2 separate regions of the Homo sapiens genome follow, and region 1 is linked to region 2. A link means that fine-mapping ties the variant in region 2 to the expression of a gene that starts in the linked region. Tissue or cell type: NK cells. Region 2 holds a variant in brackets; the other region holds the start of a gene. All regions are shown on one strand. Distances are from middle to middle.

Region 1 (8,104 bases), 93 kb after region 2:
GAGAGGGGATCATAGCTACTCTTTTTTATTTTTTTTTGAGATGGAGTCCTGCTCTGTCGCCCAGGCTGGAGTGCCGTGGGGCTATCTCGGCTCACCACAACCTCCGCCTCCCAGGTTCCAGCTATTCTCCTGCTTCAGCCTCCCAAGTAGCTGGGATTACAGGCACGTGCCACCACACCCGGCTAATTTTTTATTAGTAGAGGCGAGGTTTCACCATATCGGCCAGACTGATCTTGAGCTCCTGACGTCAGGTGATCTGCCCACCTTGGCCTCCCAAAGTGCTGGGATTACAGGCATAAGCTACTGCGCCCGGCCCATAGTTACTCTTTACCGACCCTCTGGAAGGGATAGGCCTTGTTCTAAGCAGTTACATCAATTAACTCATTCAATCTTCTCAACAACGCAGTGAGGCCAGCACTAGATCTCTATTTCGCAGGTGAGGAAACTGAGGACCAAAGGGATTAAGTAACTTCCCTAAAGTTACGGAGCTAGTGAGGGGAAGAGTCGGGATGTGAACCCGGAGACTCGCTCCAGTACCCACACTCTTAACCAAGGGATTCAAGGGATGCTCAGGACAGAAAGTCATCAGGGCTTGCGATTATATGAATGGACCAGGGGTGGAAGTCTCAGGGATGCCCAGGTTACTGGCTTGAGCAGCCAGTGGGTTGGTGCCAGCATTCGCTTCAGAAAACACAGGAGGAGCTGCTTTGTGAGGAGACAGCATGGCGTCACAAGTGTCTGCGGTGCGGCAAACGGAGATGTCAAGTGTGCTGTCAGACGCAGGGCTCTGGAGCTGACCGGAGAGGTACAGATTTGGGCACTGCTGGCATTCTGTGATAACTGAAGTTGAAGGAAGAATGGGAACGAAAAGAGAAAGAGGACACAGGGACAAAACCTCGTGAAGAACACGAATATTTAGAGAACAAGCCGCTGAAGAGAAACTCTGCGGAAAAAAAAGAAAAAGCCAGAGAGGCAGGAAGAAACCAGGTGGGTGCCGTTTCAGAGATGCCCAGAAGAGAGGGTTTCAAAAAGGAGGCTATTAATAACCTTGGTGAGAGCATTCATTGGAGTGACGGGGCTGGGAGGGCTGCAGAAGGTTGCGTAAATGGGAGGCAAAGGCGTGGAGATCATGCTTTCAAGAAGTTTGGCTTTGACTGGCATGGCCCAAATTTATGGCCAAGATATCTAAGCTCACAAAGGGATAAAATGGCACTGTTAATAACGACCCCTCATCTATGGGGTCATCAAAGCCCCCACACTATTCCTGTTTGTTGTCTACTGAAGCTCTTTCATTTATTTCTACACACACACACACACACATATTTTTTACAACTGCTGTGTGTGACAAGGGCTGCTAGGCTCTGGGGAAACATCAGGATGGGACAGGCGACATCTCTACCTTCAGGTGTATACGTTCTGCGGCATTCCCTCGCTCCTCCTGTTTATTCAGTTGTGCAGATATTGGCAGAGTCAGGCCGCCCCGGACTCATGGTGACCCAGCGTCTGGTCTGGTAGTTATGAAATCTCACATGGTTTATCATCTGGCCCTGAACAATGGGGAAAACTTGTGCTCGTCTCTTGGGGGCTATTTTCTCTGGAGTATGGAAAGTTGGTCTTTTGACAGTCAGAATCTGAAACTACAATCCAATGTGTATTTCCAGTCTACACACAAAACATACATTTTGTCTCTAAGCATTTTAATAATCACTTATGGGACTATGTTTTAAAAGATCACTTTTAGCTTTTCATCTGAATGTGTACCTGCATAGAATGAAGTTACCTTTGCACTCTTTTCAGAAAACGATGGTGTTAAAACAGGCAGAAGGATAAGCTCCTGCTGCTACTGTGGGAAAGAGAAGCCTGTCTGAATCTTATTCAGGCAGAGACCATAAAGACTCATAATAAAAATATGTTAATGGTCACTAAAGGGGAGCATCCCAGAGTCCACTTGGATGATACATTTTGGTTGCCAAAGTTAATATAGAAAGCCGGTTAATCTATCACGGCTTTAGAGCAGGGTTAATTTAAGGAGGCTTCTAAGTCAAGAGGCATGAAATAACTTTGTCTAAATAGGAAGTAGCACCCTTTGAATTACTTGCTAAGTTACCTCTGACTTCACAATCACCTACCAAATAAAGGACTTTAAAATGCCTGTAATCCCAGCACTTACAGAGGCCAAGGCAGGTGGATCACTTGAGGTCAGGAGTTCGAGATCGGCCTGGCCAACGTGGCAAAACCCCATCTTTACTAAAAATACAAAAATTTGCTGGGCGTGGTGGTGCACTCCTGTAGTCCCAGCTACTTGGGAGGCTGAGACAGAAGAATCACTTGAACCTGGAAGGCGGAGGTTGCAGTGAGCCAAGATCGCACCACTGCACTCCAGAGAGAGACTCCATCCCCTCAAAAATAAAAAAAAATAATAATAATAATAATAAAATAATAAAAATAAAATTGCCTACAAAAGTCTCTCTTCCTTCCCATAAACTCTCTATTACATTGTATTTTACAATATTTAGAAACATCGTGGTGCCACATGTAATTTTTTATTTAAATACATCAAGTCTTCATGAGATTAAACAAATATTACGGGAACCAAGAAAACGGTATTAGTGTCAGACCAAGAAGATGGTGGGTTACCTCAGTATAAGCAAACATTCTCTGTGTTTGCTTGAAGTTCATACTGCACTCAGTCAGTTTGAAAAACTGACCAGGATGAACAAGAAACAGAAATAACAGTATGGAAATAAAACTACATGAGATAATGCTTAATTCATGGATCTCAGCTTTGTGGGCCTACTCAACCAGATGGCCACTTGAAGCCAAGAATTTTTCCCCAGCAAACACAGAGGGTTGGGGTGGGGGTGATAATAAAATGTGAGCAAGGCGCATGTTTCTAAAATAGCACTCTGTATTCTCTTCTATCGCTCACCTTTGAACTGCTTCTTAATTTAAAACCCACTCATGGTTATGCACACTTCTGTTTTAAGTCTTTCTGGTGATAATGTCTTGTGCCAAATCTGTGCTTTAGAAATCAACATAAGAAGCCATATTAAGTAGGGAGAGAGAAAGGAGGAGGGAGTTGGAGGCAGGTGGAGAAGGAAGGAGGGGGTCCTGCCTTGCTGAAAGCAAGAGCGAGTAATTCTTCTTGGCCTCAAAATTCTACATATCTGTGAAATTTTAATGGGGGAATATTCTAAGAACTTTGTGACATACACGTTCTTCTCTAGTGTAATTTTCCAGTGAATTCCAACCAAGTTTTCCTGACTGAGGGGAACAGAATCTGATTGCAGAATGTTTTTCAGTGCTCTAAAAGTCATGCATACGTACCATCCCTCTGTTTTATGACCACATTTGTCAAAAGAACTGATTTGAAGGAGCCTGTTCTTAATAACAATCAAAGTCTTATTGGTTTCTTACTATGTTCTCATAAGAGAAAGACATCACTAAAGTTAATATGCTGTTAAGCAATAAAGGAAATGTAAACAATCTAACCTCCTCCTTAGACGGAAGGTTGCTTTGAAATAAAATCTAAATGGCTATTGTTAATACCGGACAATCAGGCTCGAAAATTACTCCCTTTCCACAATTAGGTGATTGGAGAAGGATTTCAGGAGACCTTATTCAACCTTTTCCCCAATTGATTAATTTGTAATGTCAGACATTATAGGATTTGTTTAAATCTTAGCTCTAAAAAAAACTTTGCATTTTAAAGTCTTAGCTTATAAACATGTCTTGAGTATAAGCAACAAAGTTTACGATTTGGGCCCAATTTAAGAATACTGTGACTGCAGAGAAAAAGGGGGAATTGGTTGGGAAAGGTAAGGAGATCTTTCAACTCTTCCAGCCAATTTGGCTTAAGAGTTGGGGGCGGGGTGGAGGGTGGGGAACAGACTTGTGTTTGGCGGTGACTCTTCATTTTACTGTGAAACTAGGAGAGATAGGTGGTCACATTTCGACCATCAAGCCCAGAAGAGAGGAGAAACTCAACGTGTAATTGGGAAACTCTGGGGGAGGAAACGTCACAGGTTTGACAAGCAATTCAGTGCCATCATTAATAACAATATCCAGCCAGAGAAACATAACGAGACCCCTTCTTTACAAATAATTTAAAACATTAGCCAGACATGGTGTTGGCCTGTGGTCCCAGCTACCACCGGGAGGCTGAGGCGGGAGGATCGCTTGAGCCTGGGAGGTCGAGGCTGCAGTGAGCCCTGACTGCACCGCTGCACTCCAACCTGGGAGACAGAGCGAGACTCCTTCTCAAAAATAAACAAAATCAATATCGACCATTTCGCATTCAGAAGCCCAGTGGGCCATGGTCTGTGTATACCTTTTCTGACCAGTGGCGTCTGCAGGAAAGAATGTGGGTGCCAGTGAGCAAAGGTTCACGGTCTCCCCCAAACCTGTCCCTCTGAGACAGAAAAATGCTGGGGCTGGGGTCAGCCGAGGGGAGGGGACGGCCAGGCCACCGGATGTCAGGCCCGGTTTCCCTCCAGAATCTTGTAAGTCGAAAGGGAAGGTTGTCCCCCATCCTGGGAGAACTGGAGCGGAGCGGCGGGGGCGAGGGGGCCGTTACCTGTGGGTCTGCCCTTCCTCCCCTGCCGGGGCTACAGGGGTCGAGGGGCTGGGCGGGCGGGCCGGTCCAGGGCGCAGGAGCCGCCCATTAATTGCGCGGGGACGGCCCTGAGCTCCTCTTCCTCCTCCTCTTTTTGCTTCTTCACTCCCTACACCTGCCCCTCTTCCTCCTCCTTCCCCGAGGCTGCTTTCCGCGGCGCCGGCCGGCCTTGCCTGGGGCGGAGGCGGTGGGGGCGGCTACCGGGCGTCCTCCGGTTTCCCTAGCAACCGCGCCTCCCCGCCCCCGCGCGACCAGGTGCAGCCGCCGAGAGCACGGGGCGGGGCGGGGCGGGGCTGTGGCCCCGGGGTCCCAAGCCAGTCGTGGGCGCCCGCCGGTTGCCGTGGGAACGAGGCGGGCTGCAGTCGGGGAGTCAGAGCCACGCTGGTGGGCAGAGAAGAGATGCCCAAGGAGGAGGCGGTTGGCTTTGTCTGGGTGCCCAAGCCCAGACCCAGATATCCAGGCCTCTGCTCCCTTCCCTGAAAGGGTGCTGTGCTTCATAAAAAATGAGATTAGAAAACGAGAGAGGAAAATATTTTTAATGGAATCAGGGAATGTGAAAAGCGGTACATGCGAAGAGGAAAAGATACTGCAGTCCTGGAGTTCGACCTCTGCAGAGGACATCTGGAATGCTCTGGTCCAACACGAAAAAGAAGAAATAAGCGATGAAGCCAGGCACCCAGTCAGTGGCAGAACCGACATTAGAGCCCAGGCCTCTTCGTAATCAGTCGTCTTCACCCCCTTTCCAAGGAGAGAGGTGCTTAGAGGCCTAGACCAGGCCCTACAGCTTTGGAGCCAGGGCACCAGAACCGCTACTACCCTCACCTTCTCTGTGCCAGGTTGATTTCTTTCTTTTTCTTTTCTTTTCTTTTCTTTTTTTTCTTTCTTTCTTTTTTTTTTTTTTAGACAGAGTCTTGCTCTGTAGCTCAGGCTGGACAGTGCAGTGGCACGATCTTGGCTCACTGCAACCTCTGCCTCCGGGGCTCAAGCGATTTTCATGCTTCAGCCGTCCGAGTAGCTGGGATTACAGGCATGCGCCACCACACCCGGCTAGTTTTTGTATTTTTTTTTTTTTTTTAAGTAGAGACGGGGTTTCTCCATGTTGGCCAGGCTGGTCTCGAACTCCTGACCTCAAGTGATCCGCCCGCCTGGGCCTCCGAAAGTGCTGGGATTACAGGCATGAGCCACCTTGCCCGGCTTTGCCGGGTTGATGTCTGTCTGTGGTTCTCATGGGCAAAGATGACTCCCCTATTTACTTTGCATATTTAGGCTCTCAACTTGTCAACTGATGTCAAGTTAGGGTATTTTTGATTGAGTGGAGAGTAAGGTAAAGGAAGAATAGAAATTCTTGGAACTTTCATCAGTGCCCGGAATCCCTAGGTGTCTGTGGTTTGACCGTCTTCTCAACACCTCCCCTTCCCCCCATTCAGTTGGTGCCAAGTCCTTGGCAGCGTCACATTCTTCTTTCTATTCTTATCACTCTAGTTTTGGGCTCCATGACCTAGTTTTGGGCTCCATGGATTATTCTGAGGGCCTCCTGGTCACACCCTGGGCGCCTGTCCTCCACACCCTATCTTCACCATTTCCCCCATCCTATAAGCAGCCTACATCTAATGTTGCTGGCCCCCTGCTTAAAAAGCCCTGAAAGGTTCCTCACCGCCTGTGGAATGAAGTCCAAACTCGTCACTATGACTTTCCCTGTGCCCTCCCCCACAGTTTCCTTTCTTGGTTTTTCCCCTTCATCACTTCTTCACTCATACTTCAGCCAGATGGGACTATGTGTTACACACTGAACATTTTTCCTTGCCTTCACACCAGCTTCAAAGACATATCATGAGCTGGGCAGAGTCTAGACAAATGTACTTAGCTGAAGTCTTTCCACTGGGCACTTTCCCATCTGAACTTCGCTGGTCCTCCAGCAGACCCTAGGATCTTTTCATCTCTAGTAGCCCAGTCCATATTCTGTTCTTGTTCTCAGCTGATTATCAAGTATTCCTTAGTAAAGCATTAACTGATAATTGAAGTATTAACTGATAAGGATGTAACCTAAGAACTTGCCTCATGGTTTTTGCCTTTCAAAAGGATATGCTTTGGGCCAGGCATGGTGGCTCACGCTTGTAATCCCAGCACTTTGGGAGGCCGAGGCAGGGGGATCACCTGAGGTCAGGAGTTTTGAGACCAGCCTGGCCAACATGGTGAAACCCCATCTCAACTAGAAATACAAAAATTAGCCAGGTGTGCTGGCAGCCACCTGTAAACCCAGCTACTCAGGAAGCTGAGGCAGGAGAATTGCTTGAACCCAGGAGGCGGAGGTTGCACTCCAGCCTGGGCGACAAGAAACTCTGTCTCAAAAAAAAAAAAAAAAGTTTGGATGCGCACACTGGGTTGAAACTATAATAGTGAAATGATAGGTAGGGAGCTTGTTCTGTTGGCGCGAGGACCCACCTCAAATAAAAATAACAGAGGAGGAAGTTGAAGCCCAGGTTCTCACCTTGTTGAAGGTAAGGGACATGACCAGAACATATGGTAAGTACCAGAACCAGGGTTCAAAAACAGGGCTTTCCATCTCCAGTAACTTGATGTTGCCCACTACTAAGAAAAGCACCTTGGTACTTCCTGTACCCAGACAAGATCTATTAAAATAATACTATCTATCTCAAAAGCTTGCTGTGGGAATTAAATGAGAGAGGACAAGCAAAGCATTTCACATCATGCTTGGCACATAGCACTCAATAATTGGTAGCTTTGCTTTATAAGGCATAACTTAAGATTTTATTGCATGTGAATGTTAACCGTAAATATTTAAAGATTTTTATTTATTTTTAATTTTTTAATTTTTTTTTTTTTTGAGCCAGAGTCTGTCACCCAGGCTGGAGTGTTATAGCGCGATCTTGGCTCACTGTAACTGCCGCATCCCAGGTTCAAGCGATTCTCCTGCCTCAGCCTCCTGAGTAGCTGGGACTACAAGCACGTGCCACCATGCCCAGCTAATTTTTGTATTTTTAGTAGATACAGAGTTTTGCCAGGTTGACCAGGCCAGTCTCAAACTCCTGACATCAGGTGATCCACCCTCTTCGGCCCCCACAAAGTGCTGGGATTATAGGTGTGAGCCACTGTGCCCAGCCTAAAGATTTTTAAATAACAAGGTCTGGAGAAGTCACTTCATATCTCAGCTTTAAACTCTTCCACATGTCAAGTGTTCTTGAAAATTAAGTTATATGAAAAAATCATGGTGCCTTTGAAAGAGGGTAATAGTGCCCAAGGTCAGCTCATAAAAAGCTATAGAGCAACTCCAACTTTAGTGTTTAATGAGTAAATTTAAGCTAGGCATGTAAATTACAAATAAGATTAGTTCTGGCATTAAAAAGCAAAGTCCTTAGGAGGAGAAATATTAAAATGAAGAAGAAAAACTTCTCCTGGTTGGGGAAAGGATCCTACTCTTCATTATTTCCTGCACAATGTTCCTGGTAGAGATGAATAAGTAAACAAAAA
Region 2 (8,104 bases):
ATTTTTTTGTAATTTTAGTAGAGACAGGGTTTCACCATGTTGGCCAGGTTGGCCTCAAATTCCTGAGCTCAAGTGATCCTCTAGCCTCGGCCTCCCAAAGCGCTGGGATTACAGGCATGAGCCATCACACCCAGCCAGGTTCCTCTTTTTCGCAGGTCCTCCATGTTCGGGTGCCCACACGTAATACACAACCAGCCCCTGCATCCTTGCTCTCCTCTATTTTTGGGGGGCAAATATCCTAGAGGCTCATTCGGTTATATGACCATTGATGACCATTTAATTACTACTCATGTTTAATAATAAGCAATTATGTGATCGTCACTTACTTTTCAGCCAGAGGGTCACCATGTGTACACTTAGCAGCTGCTAAATCTTAGTCCTAACAATGATAGTCCCATATCCTCCCAAGCGACCGTGAGGACCTCAACAGCTTGCACATCTAATAAACAGCACTGCAGGGTTTTCAGGGCTGCCACCGGACAGCTCTGGGTCACAGCCAGACTTACCCTCTCTCTTTCCACCTGGTTGTGGTTGAGCCTCATGAGTTCTGCAAACCTCTGCTCATAGAGGTGAAGCAGCAGCACCAGGTACAAGCCTGAATTCATCAGCTCGTTTTGTGCCTACAAATGGAAAAGAAAGCTCTTCAGTTCATCTGTAAAATAGTCATGGTCTAAATTGTGGGATGCAGGGTAACAAGGCTAAGAGGTGACAAGAACTGGGAGAAGAGCCCAAGCTCCAAGGCAAGGCCTGCTCTTGGGGACCAGAAGACAGAGCAGGAGGAGATCCAGGGTAGAGGCCAGGGCAGCCACTCCCCTGGGATTTTTTACTAGCTAGTGGAGGATGCTCGGAGAAAGTTCCATTTTCCAGGCTCAATCCCATTCCACATTTATTGAGCAGTTACATATGCAAAGCCTTGAGCTGGATGTTGTGGGGAACACAGGGCAAAAAGCCTCAGAACTCCCTGCTGGGAACCGATCACCTGGTGTGGGGGAGAGAGCTTCATCGGTAAACAGCTCCAGTACAAGCTGGATGTGTCGGGTGCTACAACAGAGATGCACCAGGCCTTGTCCATAACGTTCTCAGCAGTCACAGATGTCCCCTTGTGAAAGGCTTCCTGAGGAGCCTCCTTTGCCCCCATCATTCCTTTGCTTCCCAGTCCCTAAGCATTCGTCTTGATCTTGCATATCACCTTTTGCACTTGTTAACGTTTCCGCTTTCTCTTGAGGAGTGGGCTGTGCTTTTTTTCTCGCTGGTGCTCAGAACAGGCGCTACACAGGGAGGATGTGATGGTCTGGCTGCCCATGGCACTTCTCTGTCCTTAGCACTTGGGCTTTGCTGCCAAGAGTGGCTGTGCTCACTCTAGACCTTTCACAGACCTTCCATAAATCAGTGGTATTAGTAACAACTACTCCTATCCCTCTATAGGGGAAGGAGGGGAAGGCCCTTTCAGTCCCCATCTTTCCCTTGAGTGGGGGTCTTGGGATGGGCCAGGCTGTGCTCACAAAGCCACCCAGCCCCCGGGGAATAGAGTCCCCAGCAGAGGGCATGGCCCCTTCCGTCACCCTTGGGAAAGCTTGCAACTGTGACTCTGTCGGCCCAGGATAACGATGCGTGGGCATGAATGACACAGTGAGCACTCAGTGTCTCATCTGCCTTCTTCCTGCAGCAGCGCGGGTGCCACATCTTCCTGTTCTCATTAGATCCAGGGCAGCTCAGGAGGTTGGCACAGAACCCACCTCTCCCAGGACCAAGCAGCTGCCAGAAAAGGCACAGAAGTTGAGCAAGGATTGATATGCTCTTCCTTCTGAATCAGGGCCAACTCTGGATCTTGGTGACAGCCGGCCCTGAGATCACTGCTGCAGGCCTCTCCACCATTCTACAGATCCATCTTCGAAGGCCCCAGTCCTCTGTCCTTAGCAGTTAGCCTCCTATTTTTAGCCTTTGGTCGTGTTTTTTGTGCTCTGCTGACCTTGGCCTAGAGTGAGTAGAGAAGAAGTTGCTTGTTTGCATTATTTCTGTTTTATTTATTTAATTTTATTTTTGAGACAGACACAGTCTTGCCCAGGCTGGAGTGCAATGGCGTGATCTCGGCTCACTGCAACCTCCACCTCCCAGGTTCAAGCAATTCTCCTGCCTCAGCCTCCTGAGTAGCTGGGATTACAGGTGTGCACCACCACGCCCAGCTAATTTTTGTATTTTTAGTAGAGATGGGGTTTCATCATGTTGGCCAGGCTGGTCTCGAACTCCTGGCCTCAGGTGATCCACCTGCCTTGGCCTCCCAAAGTGCTGGGATTACAGGTGTAAGCCACCCTGCCTAGCCACTTTTTCTGTTTTAATTGCCTCCTCCTGCCCTCCCCGTGAGTCTGTGCCTGCCTCCGACTGTCTCGCCAACCACCTCTTCTGAGAAGCCTTCCTCACCTGGCTTTTAGCTCCTCCTCACCAACAAAGCCTTGGTCCTTATTTGTTTACCTCATCCCCGGCTTCCTCCTGCAAAAGCTGCCAGTGGTTCTCTCACCAGTGCTCTTTGCCAGCCAGCTTTTATGCTTGAGACACCGGGATGCATGATGACAAATCAATCAGCTAGAAAATGGTTTGGAACTATCAGGTTTGTCAAAGCATTCAGGAAAATCATTTACTTTTTATGACTCAATAAGGCCCAGAGGCATGCAGATGGGAGAATATCCACTAATGTTTTCTGCAGATAATTTGAAAAGTCACTTCTAGCAGATTGTGTCTCTTCTCTGATCTGTGGGAGGGAACCTGCCACACAGTGCCATCAATCTCGCCGGCTCGGTTCCTTTATGTGCGCCCTTTGCAGAGCTGGTGATGCTCGACAAAGGGGCTCAGCCCACCAATCAGAGCAGGCGTGTGATAGTCAACTCCGAATCAGCCTTTACACTCCTGAGCTACAAGTGGGAGGGATTTGTTAACTCAAAGAGTTCCACCGCACTTGGCTGGCCAGGGCCAAATGAACGAGGTTTTGGAGCAGGGCTTACTGGAGCTACGGCCCATCCACCCCTTCCTTGTCCCAATCACATCACACTTTGACTCCCACGTGGAGTTCCCTTTGTGTGCCAGACTGAAGGGAATGGGGGTGGCATTAATAGGAGGGGGCGGGGACATTAAAAAGGAGAAGGCATGTGAAACAGCGCAAAAGGGCTCCGGAGATCTCAGCCCACCTGCCAGCTGTTTTCTCCATTTTGCTAATATTCATTTAGGCCAAGAGACTTGCTACTGACGGAAATTCTCAATATATTCCACTTAAAGAAGCTGACAGCCTGGCTGAATGTTCTATCAAGTCTTCAAATATATTCAAGAGTGCTCCTAGGTATAAGGGTGATTAGGTGACTGCGTGTGTCTGAGGACATCTGTCCTTGGCTGAGATGGAGCCAGGCCAGGCCTGTGCTTCACAGCAATGACAGCCTGAGGCCCACTGAGACTCTCCTGTGCGGCAGAGCAAGGATGGCAGGGGTGTGTTCCAATTCAGTGAGCAGGGGCCCCTGGAGTGCATCTTACCTGGAAAGCGCTGCCGGCTAAGGTGGGCAGTGCAGGGCCACCGGACACTGTGACTTTAGGCAGAGTTTTAACTGTGCAGGACCAAAGGGACTCAATTTGTAATGGAAGGGAAGTAACCTCTGTTCTGCCTGTTTCCTCAAAGCATGATAGTAAAGTGAGCTAATATATGGGATCTCGCAACACCAACACATCCTACAAGAGACAAGATTTAAAGAC[A/C]GGATTCCAGGTAAATTGTCTGGGCGTTAAGATCTGTGAGGGCAAGACCTGCATCTGTCTTGTTTGCTCCTGACTCCTAGTGCCTGGCCCAGTGCCTGGTATACTGTGCATGCTTTATAAATATATGCACAGATGAAGCAATGAGAAAAAAATGCATAATTGTGATGGATCAGACAGTGACCCATTCAGCCACAACTTTTGAATCTAGTGGCTCCAGGTTTAACATGCATCAGAAATACTGAGCAGGCCTTTTCAAACACAGTTGCCAGGCAGTCCCGTCCCCTCCCCTCCCCCTTCTCCTCTTTTTTTGAGACAGTCTCACTCTGTTGCCCAGGCTGGAGTGCAATGGTGTGATCTCGGCTCACTGCAACCTCCGCCTCCCAGGTTTAAGTGATTCTCCTGCCTCAGCCTCCCGAGTAGCTGGGATTTCAGGTGTGTGCCACCACTCCCAGCTAATTTTTGTATTTTTAGTAGAGACGGGGTTTCACCACATTTGGCCAGGCTGGTCTCCAACTCCTGACCTCAAATGATCCACCCACCTCGGCCTTTCAAAGTGTTGCGATTACAGGCGTGAGTCACCGCGCCTGGCCTCACTGCTCCTCCTTTCCTCCCTGCATTTCTGATTCAGCTGGACTGGAGTGGGCCCAAGAATGTGTACTTCTAACAAGTTCCCAGATGATGCTAACGCTCCTGGTTTGGGGACCACCCATTTTTGAGAACCACTGATCTAAACTAAGGGTGAGCACGTGGTAGCTGCTAAGCTGAATCTGGCCTGTGGATGTGCTCTGGTTGGATGGAAGGAAGCAAGAAGGAAGGTAGAAAAGAAGAGCATGACCATCTTTAGTTGGGGAGAGCACTTTCCATTTTGCCACAAATGCCACCACGCCCAATGGCAGGATACCTAGAAGATTACCATCATTTGTTGTCTGCCTGGCCTCTGTGGTATTTGAGTGTGTAACCTGTGACCTAAGCTTTCCTTAAACCTGTTTTCACCTCATCCATTTTGGAGGCTAGAATGTTATTTGGCTCGCCGCATGCTGCTGTCCAGGAGTTCTGCCCTCCACCGCAAAACCGAGTGCCCAACCAGCATCCAATATGAGTCCTGCTTCCAGGCGACAGCCAACGCTCACAGGAGCAAATGTAGGCTTGCCTCACACACAGCACTACCGAAAGAGTCAGGAGAAAGGAGGGCTGTACTGCCACAGGCCCTGACAGACCTAAGATGAAACCGCCAGGTCCCTGGGGTCCCACAGCTGCTCTTGTCTAATGATCCCCTCTCCAGATGCTTGTAGGAGTTCCTGATCTAGCCGCTTGAGGCCTGGTAACAGACCTTGACCTTGGGCCTCATACTAGAATAATCCGAGTTCAGTGCCCTGTTAGCACCTGTGAGCAGCATCTGCCCTGCTCCCACCAGAAGTACAGAACTAAGGTAGGAAAACGTGCTCTGACGGGAGCCCCTCCACACTCTCAAAGGCCACCGACAGTGCTGACCCGGCACCTAGAGGACACGCCCTGATCTGTGCTCAGGTCCCAGGGGAGGCGTCCGTCCCAGATGTCACAGACTTCACTCCAAGGCCCGGTTGATAGAAGGCCCGCTCCTCTCTTTCCTTCCGCTGTTAAACATCTCTTCTTCAGAAAGGCCTTCTCTGGTTCAGAGAGCAAGTCGGAGTCCCACAGCTGTTCCCGCAGCGGCCTGCATGGTCCTTGTTTTGACCTCCACCTGCAGGAATTGCTGGCTTCAGTCTTCGCTGCTGGTCGGTAGGGCCCTGCGGGTCTTGGGTACGGCAGCATTTTCGGCACAGTATCTCACAGGCAGCAGGTGCTCAATAAGTATTTGAAAATTTAGTTAAACTGGCTGGGTGTGGTAGCTCACACCTGTAACCCTAGCACTTTGGGAGGCCAAGGTGGGAAGATCACTTGAGCCCAAGATTTTGAGACCAGCCTGGGCAACAAAGTGAGACAGACCCCATCTCTCAAAAAAAAAAAAAAAGAAAAAAAGCAGGGTGTGGTGGCACACACCTGTGGACCCAGCTACTTAGGAGGCTGAGGCAGGAGGATCCCTTGAACCCAGGAGGGACCCTGGCCCCATCCCAGAGCTGGGGTTAGACCTGGGTTGGGCCTGTGTATCACCATTTTAATAGAAAAAAAGAAGACCTGCAGCTAAATGTTATAAGTTATCATTTTGGGTGGTAAATTATAAGAAATTTTTGTATGGTTTTTGTAATTAAACAAAAGCAAAAAAAAAAAAATTCTAAGTGGGAAAATATATAAGAAAAACAGTTCACTAGTCAGTTAGTTTGAGGTTAAGTGAGAACCAGGCTAAGCTGAAGCCCGTTCTAGGTTTCTTTTGGTTTTGCCCCTTTTTTGGTACATGTCTAGACTTGTACACGTCTAGAAGTGGTGCCACTTCTCCAGAAAGGAACCCATTTGCCAAGGACAAGCAGCAGGAGGGTGGCCAGGAGGCCCAGGTGAGCCAGGTTTGGAAGCGAGGGGAAGGGACCAGGCCCACAAGGCACAGGTGTCCATGTCACCTCCACGGCCAGGCTGGTGGCCTCCTCAGCTGGGCTTGTCCCCTCAGTGGGCTCACCGCGCCTCGGGGACGAGCTGAGTTTCAGTGACGTTGTAGATATCTTTGTGTTCAACAACAGTTGCTTCAGTCTTTATCTATGGCGAGCTTCAGAATTCGCCCAAGTCAGGCTCCCTGGGGCCTGGGGTTTCGCCCAGGCTGTGAGCAGACAGGCACTATGAATTCCCAGCAGGTCATGGGGACAGTCAGGGCTGCAGTGAGGTGTGAGCCCTCAGCCGCCTCCAGACAGCAGCCGCCCATGCTATGACCTGGCTCTCCCCACAGGGCGGGCCTGGCAGCCTAGCTGTCACCTGGGATGATAATGCGGGCATTTCCCAAAGGCTCTGATGGCTTGTGAAGTTCTCACTGAAACGAATTTAAAATCATTCCTGCTTCCACGTGGAGCAATGACTGTGCTGGATGCTTTCTGTCTCTCCTGCAGATCCGCACCCCTCCTGCTCTGTGGCCCAGGGGCCGGCCCCATGGCTTTCCCCAGCCGGGCTTCCTTGCCCTCTGGCTTCCCGTTGGGTTTGGCCCATGGGAGGCCCCGGCAGGAGACCCGAGGGCGGAGGAGGGAGAAGCTGGGTGTCTCTTCCCAATCCCTCTCTGCTGGGCGTGGTGTGACAGTGGTTGCTGTCTTCTCCTGAAGGCCACAGGCTGCTGGTGGCTGATCCTTAGCTACAGCGCTCATGACCCTGGCCACACTGCTAGTCCCAGGACGCCTCCTCGTTCCTTGCTGCTTTCTTTTGCTGCCCAGATTTCCCTCCTCCCTTCTGCGTTCTTCACTTGCCCCCTTTGAGTGTGCCACCATCTCTTCCCACCCAGATCCTGGCTGATACAATTACTGTCATAGTTCTTTCTAGAAGGTGCTTGTAGCCAGTTGTCTTAACATGGAGGGTGCGGTGGGGCCGAGGATATGGATGTGACCCAGTGGGGCTGGTTTGTTTTGTTAGTTCACTGATGGACTCTAGGCCAGTCATTGGTGCACGTAGCTTTCTCCCCTGAGTGCCAAGTCAGTCGAGCGTCTCTGTGGCTGTAATCTGACAGTTCTCATGCGTGGAGCCTCCTCTGCCCACACTCTGTCTATGAGGTGATGTACTCGAGTCTTTTCCTACATCCAGACCTGTGAGGTGTGAGTTAACATCTCTCACCTTCTACAGATAAGAGAACTGAGGTGCAGAGAATTGCCATAGTCTCCTCAAGGTCACGGGGCCACTCTGGGGAAGAGAGTAGGGTTTAGACTGAGATCTTAATCAAAGCTGGTAGGCTTTTCAGTGGGACCTGCGGCCTCAGACTACATGAGTGCAAACATCTTAGTACAAATGGAAAAATGTGCTGCTGTTGGGTCAGTTCTATAAATGCCATTGATAAAGGACATTAGATGGTGGCAGCAGCTTGGCAGAGGGAGAACCATGTGGAAAGGCTTGGGGCCAAAAGGGATCTTTTCTAGACAAGGCATTCCCCTGGGCTGCACGGTGTTTGTGGTGTCAGTAGATTGCTCTGATAGATAGTATTCTGGGCAACCCATCCTCACGTGGACACGTCCTCCTTAGGAGATTCGGCAGGCTCCGTTGCCCAAAATGATCTATTTCTTGAGATGAACCTGTCGGCACCCTGACTGGCACCTGACCTCAGGCACTGAGAGGTTCTGGTTTCTTTCAGTATTTCGCCTCCCACATGCTCAGCGTCCAGGAATGTGAGTCGCGCTGTTTATCGTCTCAGATCTTAGTGCCTGGTGGTTATGATGCAGTGATGTGAGACCTTCAGGCCTCAAAACACTATTTATTTCTCAAGAAGTCCTTCTCC

Alleles and levels. Alleles are on the strand shown, and positions count from the first base shown. SD is a standard deviation of normalised expression in the study named.
As copies of C replace A in region 2, the expression in NK cells of the gene that starts at base 4,814 in region 1 goes up (large effect, 0.78 SD a copy in Gilchrist 2021).

Evidence for each region. PIP is the estimated chance that this variant, and not a neighbour inherited with it, causes the effect.
Region 1: MARCHF10 starts here. The variant in region 2 is fine-mapped to the expression of MARCHF10 in NK cells (Gilchrist 2021, PIP 0.95).

Annotation. Positions count from the first base shown.
Region 1 is chr17:62,803,501-62,811,604 of GRCh38, forward strand. It overlaps MARCHF10 (membrane associated ring-CH-type finger 10), which reads right to left and starts at 4,814. Exons shown (of 11, transcript NM_152598.4): 1 at 4,577-4,814. It overlaps MARCHF10-DT (MARCHF10 divergent transcript), which reads left to right and starts at 5,002. Exons shown (of 2, transcript NR_135634.1): 1 at 5,002-5,451. RefSeq lists a silencer at 4,703-4,852.
Region 2 is chr17:62,710,725-62,718,828 of GRCh38, forward strand. It overlaps MARCHF10 (membrane associated ring-CH-type finger 10), which reads right to left. Exons shown (of 11, transcript NM_152598.4): 9 at 507-620. The region is part of intron 2 of MARCHF10-AS1 (MARCHF10 antisense RNA 1); the gene reads left to right. Among named protein-coding and RNA genes, the nearest start is that of MARCHF10-AS1, 8.6 kb to the left of the region's middle. The variant A/C (reference allele first, on the strand shown) is at 3,733.